Linked DNA regions of Homo sapiens: region 1 is linked to region 2. Evidence: fine-mapped expression QTL. Tissue or cell type: whole blood. Region 2 holds a variant in brackets; the other region holds the start of a gene. All regions are shown on one strand. Distances are from middle to middle.

Evidence for each region. PIP is the estimated chance that this variant, and not a neighbour inherited with it, causes the effect.
Region 1: it holds the start of FERMT3, and the variant in region 2 is fine-mapped to the expression of FERMT3 in whole blood (INTERVAL, PIP above 0.99).

The regions. Positions count from the first base shown.
Region 1 is chr11:64,205,565-64,208,064 of GRCh38, reverse strand. It overlaps FERMT3 (FERM domain containing kindlin 3), which reads right to left and starts at 1,344. Exons shown (of 15, transcript NM_031471.6): 1 at 1,251-1,344; 2 at 541-714. The coding sequence starts at 700. RefSeq lists enhancers at 696-775, 1,096-1,175, 1,610-2,172, 2,076-2,335, 2,173-2,500.
Region 2 is chr11:64,106,651-64,109,403 of GRCh38, reverse strand. The region is part of intron 3 of MACROD1 (mono-ADP ribosylhydrolase 1); the gene reads left to right. All of the region lies in intron 2 of FLRT1 (fibronectin leucine rich transmembrane protein 1), which reads right to left. Among named protein-coding and RNA genes, the nearest start is that of MACROD1, 58 kb to the left of the region's middle. The variant G/TG (reference allele first, on the strand shown) is at 1,091.

The DNA of each region.
Region 1 (2,500 bases), 99 kb before region 2:
CTCTCAGGAAGGGGTAGCCCCCACCCCCGGCAGGGAAGGAAGATGAGGAGCCCCCGTGTCACTAGCCCCGTGGTCCTCCATGACTGATACCACAGCTGCTCTGCTGTAACTTCCTGTGGGGGCAGGGCCTTCCCACCCAGGCTGGGCCTGTCACCAACCTGCTCAAAGCTTCCGCCAAGGGGAGGGAGCGTGGGGGCAGGCCCCTGGGTCACCTAGACCCCCTCAGACCTCAGCAATGTGACTTCAGCCTCGGCCCAGACAAGACCACTCCTTCTGCCCCTATTGGTGGCTGAATGGAGGATTGTGGCTGCGTCTGATCCTTAGCAGACCAGCTGCAGCAGAAGGGAGGGAGGGAAGAGGGTGGGAGGGAGAGGAAGTTGGGGAAATGTCTTTTTTGGAACCAAATGATTAAGCTAATGCCTGAGTCACCGTGACACCATTATCGGGAGCTGAGCAGCAGGGATGGCCCGGAAGTGCCCAGAGACACCCGTGGCGGCCGCCCATGGTGCCGAGTTCAGCAAGCGGGCAGCGGACACTCACTGATCTGCTCCACAATCTTCAGGAGCACCCCGCCGATGTGCGACTCCCCAGTGACCCGCAGGGTGACCGACTCGGCCTCTGGGTCCTCCTCTCCCACAAACACCCGCAGCTCCCATGACGAGTCGATGTAGTCCCCGGAGGCTGTCTTCATCCCCGCCATGGCTGCGGCTGCTGCTACAGAGAGTGTGGAAGGAGGCAAGGTGGGCAGGCCCTGGTAGGCCTCCGGGTTTGGGCAGAAGAGCTCTGTGATGCCCTGGACACACCCAGAGGAAAGCCGCTCATGAAGGAGGGCGGGAGTGAGCACCCAGGCCAGCACGCCCGTGGTACCCTCAGACTCTCTCTCCAGCGCTGGCGCTTGAGCCGCGAGGGCCCTCAGAGACCATGTAGTCCAATCCGCTCCCATCCTACAGGCGGGCAGACTGAGGCCGGGTAAGAAGGGGCTCACTCAGGACCACCGTGCTCAATGCCAGCCCACAGCTCACTCCCAGACCCTCAGGGGCAGCTGCCCACTCTGGCCATGGCTTCGTACCCAGGCCAGGAAGTAGTTCCGATCCTGGCCCACAGCTCAGATGCCAACATCACAAACCAGCCAAAGCCTCTCCGGGGAGGTGGAAAGTTCAGGCTGCCGCATGGCGAGAGGCAGGCTGGGCAGAGGCTGCAGGAGGATAAGGAAGAGAAGGGCCCAGGGTCCCAGTGAGGCCTGAGCTTACCTTTCCTGGCAAGGGCTGGGGGCTGCAGGTGGGTCTCGGGCTACACCCCTGTGGGCCGTGGGCTTCCTGCCCTCCTTTCTCTTTGGAGCTTCCTTCAGGGCAGCCCTTGCTTGTGCCTTATCACGAGCAGGGCGGGTTCAGCCCCTCCCCAGGGCGGGCTGGCGCTGGGTGCAGGAAGCACACTGCCAGCCCACAGAGGGTTCCAGGGGCCCCCCCACCTTTGTCCCCAGAGAGCACAGGAAGCTAGGGAGAGCGGGGCTTAGCGACTCAACACCATAAAAACGCCCCCTTCCTCATTTGGAGGGAAGCTCAGTGCAAACTCAACAAGTCCCCCGGCTGTGTGTGTTCAGGGCTAGGTCCACTTTTGTGGGAAGTGTCTGCCATCCTCAGCCTGTCACATGAGGTGGGGACCTTGGGCTTTGAAACATCACTGGGCTGCCGGAGGGAGAGCCCAGGAGTCGACAGAGTGTATCCAGGTTATTTGGGACTCACAGGTTAAATCGGCTCCAGCCTGGCTATCCCTATCAACCAAGGATCCCTCAAGGCCCCAGAGGGAAACAAGTCCATTTTGCAGTTTTTCCTAGCTCCGCGTAGGGCTACCTTCAAACTCATGAACTCAGACCTGCCAGGTGAACAAGTGAACAGTACTTGGCCCAGACCATCCACAACCTCCCGGGCCCTCAGGTCACCCAGCTCCAAACACGACCCCTCCACTGTGCTCCACTTGGATGAGCCTCCCCGAGTCCCCACGAGGCTCACTCCCATCAAGTCCCTGCTTAGGTGACACCTCAGGGGTCTCTGGTGGTCTATACCCTCCTGCTCATCACCTGCCCTAGGATGTGGACTTCAGTAGAGCAAGGCACGTCCGCCACCAGCTCTGCGCAGGACAGCGGCCTTTCCAGTGAACACACTGGGGTTGGAGCATGCAGGGTGGGCAAGCCTGGGGGCGGCAGAGTCCTGCCAATGGGGGAGGCTACCTGAGCATCGCCACTCAGATGGGGAAGGGGGCGGCCTGCCGGGGATTCCCAGGGGAAAAGAAAGCTGATGAAACTAACAGCAGGAAGTCCAGCCAGCTGCTAGTCTCAGCGCCTTCCTAGCCCAGAAAGCAGCACTCTTGGAGCAAATGAGGAAGTTTTACTCCTGCCCCAAAGGCCTCCCCAGTCCAGGAAGAGAGCTTTAGAAAACGCAGCTTGTTGCAACCATGGAAAAGTGTAATTAAAGCTTAGCACCCTAAGTTCTCAGGTAAGAGC
Region 2 (2,753 bases):
GGGTTTCCCAGGTCTGGGGGAGCAGTAGGGAAGCTGAGTGTGGGTGTCTACACCCAACTGCAAAGCCTTTATAAGTCAGTGACACCAAGCTTCTTCCCCACCCCTCGTGGTGGCTTATGGCCCACTGTCTGCTGCTCAGCCTTTGCTGGGGACCCTGCTGCTGGCTCCTGGCCCTCATGGAACCTGGGGATGCTATTTTCTATTCACAGGCATGTCCCAGGAGCTTCTGGAAGCCAGCAAGGAAATAGCCCCCCATCCCTGTCTGGCCTCACTCCCACGTCTCCTCTTTCACCTGTCCCATCCCTGGGATGGGGGCATCTCAGGCAGGGCCAGGCGGGGAGAGGAAGTGTCCTGCATGTAAACTCTGTATGTAGGAAAGACAAGTACATGCTCACGTGCATGGATGCTGGTCACGTCTCCCCCACCCCCACTTGCCCCTCAGCCTCCTTCCTGCCCACCTGCCTGCCTCTGTCCTTAGGAATCTGGCTGCCCATGTGGCCTGGCACTGGTGTGTGGCCTGGCACTGGTGTGTGGTTGCTGCAGACCCTGGGGTCCTTTGGCTTTTCCCCCACTTCCCAGCCCCCAGGTGGGGTCCCTTGCAGGTGTCTTTCCCCTGCCAGTCCCTCCCTTCAGCAATAATTCATGTGTCTCCCCTAAACCTTGCCATGCCTTCAATTCCTCACTGAGAATGCCGTGCAGGCAGACTGCGGGCAGAAGCAGTTTCTCAGCCCCAGAGCGGGAAAGGCCAGTGGGACCCCAGTCCCACCTCCCACTAGACAGGAAGCCCTACCAAGGCACAATCATCTCCAGCTCTGTGATGGGGCTTCAGCAAACCTTTGTTTAAATTAATGAAAGACCCCACCTTCCTGGGGGCTCAACTGCAAATAAGACAGAGGGAAGAGGGCCAGGAGGTAGACAGGGCAGGCCGCTGCTTCCTGGTGCTCAGGGAGACCCAGGGAGAGCTCCCCTCCTTCTCGCCAGGAAGCCCCTTTCCTGTGAAGGCAAGTAGCCAGTGGTCTGCCTGGCTCAACCAAGCTGCTCAGCCTACTGTGGGGTGGCCCTGGGTCTCAAGTCTTTTTTTTTTTTTTTT[G/TG]AGACAGAGTTTCGCTCTTGTTGCCCAGGCTGGAGTGCAATGGTACGATCTTGGCTCACCGCAACCTCTGCCTCCTGGGTTCAGGCGATTCTTCTGCCTCAGCCTCCCGCGTAGCTGTGATTACAGGCATGCACCACCACGCCCCACTAATTTTGTATTTTTAGTAGAGACGGGATTTCTCCATGTTGGTCAGGCTGGTCACTAACTCCTGACCTCAGGTGATCTGCCCGCCTCGGCCTCCCAAAGTGCTGGGATTACAGGGGTCTCAAGTCTATCTGACCATAAACGATCTACTTCCCTGGGCTTTTGTGAAGATAAAATAAGGTTACTTTCAATGTTTAGCAGAGTCGTATTCAGAATGAGGGAACTATTACCATTACTAGCAATGAGCCATTCTTCCCTGAGCCCCAGACATGAACTGCAGGAAGGGAGGGGAGCCTTGAGTCGTGTGAGTGGGGCTTTTCCAAGCCCTAGTTCAGGCAGATGCCCCAGGGACTGCAGGCCCACCAGAGGCATCTCCTTAGGGCAGGGACTAGATGCCATGACCCTCAAGGACCTTCTAACCCCAGCTCCCGCCAGGGCAGGGTGCCAGCCAGCCACACCCATCACCCTGAACAGCTTTGCTCCTGGATCCCATCCACTGGTATCATTTAGAACTTGTGATGCATGGGGGCTGGGGCGGGAATTCTTTTAAAACCTAAAGTTAATTATTTTTCTAATTTCATGCTGCATGCATTATGCATCAGCTGTTATCACTGGCGGTAATTGCAGACAGGTATGCAAATCCACTATAAATGCACCTAACCACATAGGCCGGCTGGGTGGCGCTGGTGCCAGGCGGCGGGATGTCCTGAACTTCAGAGAATGTAAATCGCTTTTAAAAAAACAGGACTTTAGAATTGTGTCTTAGGAAGTTAATTATATTGATAACAGTGTTCGATATTAAACCATTCAAGGCCAGGAGGGGGTGGGGGGATGAAAGGAGACACGTGTAATTTTGTTCCTTTCTCTCTCGGCATTATTTAATAAGATGCTCCTACACCTGATATTTCTGTCTGTCTGTGTCCATTTTTAGTAAAGCTGCCTAAACTGAGACTTAATTCCTTTATGGAAGGGAAAAAGAAAGCCCAGTGGGCTGGGCAAGTTGGCTCATTGTAATCCCAGCACTTTGGGAGGCTGAGGCAGGTGGATCACCTGAGGTCAGGAGTTCAAAACCAGCCTGGTCAACATGGCGAAACTCTGTCTCTACTAAAAATACAAAAATTAGCTGGGCATGGTGGTGCATGCCTGTAATCCCAGCTACTTGGGAGGCTGAGGCAGGAGATTCACTTGAACCTGGGAGGCGGAGGTTGCAGTGAGCCGAGAGATCGTGCCACTGCACTCCAGCCCGAGTGACAGAGTAAGACCCTATCTCAAAAAAAAATAAAATAAAATAAATAAAAGAAAGCCCAGTGGAATTTCAGAGGGAAGGAGAGGGGCTAAAGGTCTTTATTTTGGGGGATGAGGAAAAGGAAGAGAGGCAGCACCAGCAGGGCTGGGGACAGTCCTCCAGAACAGGACTGAGGCTGCGGGCTCTGCACTGCTTCTCTCCTCAGCCGCCTTTAGGATCCTGGGCCACAGCAGAGAGCCTGGAGAGGAGCAGTGTGACCAGTAAAGGCTGGTG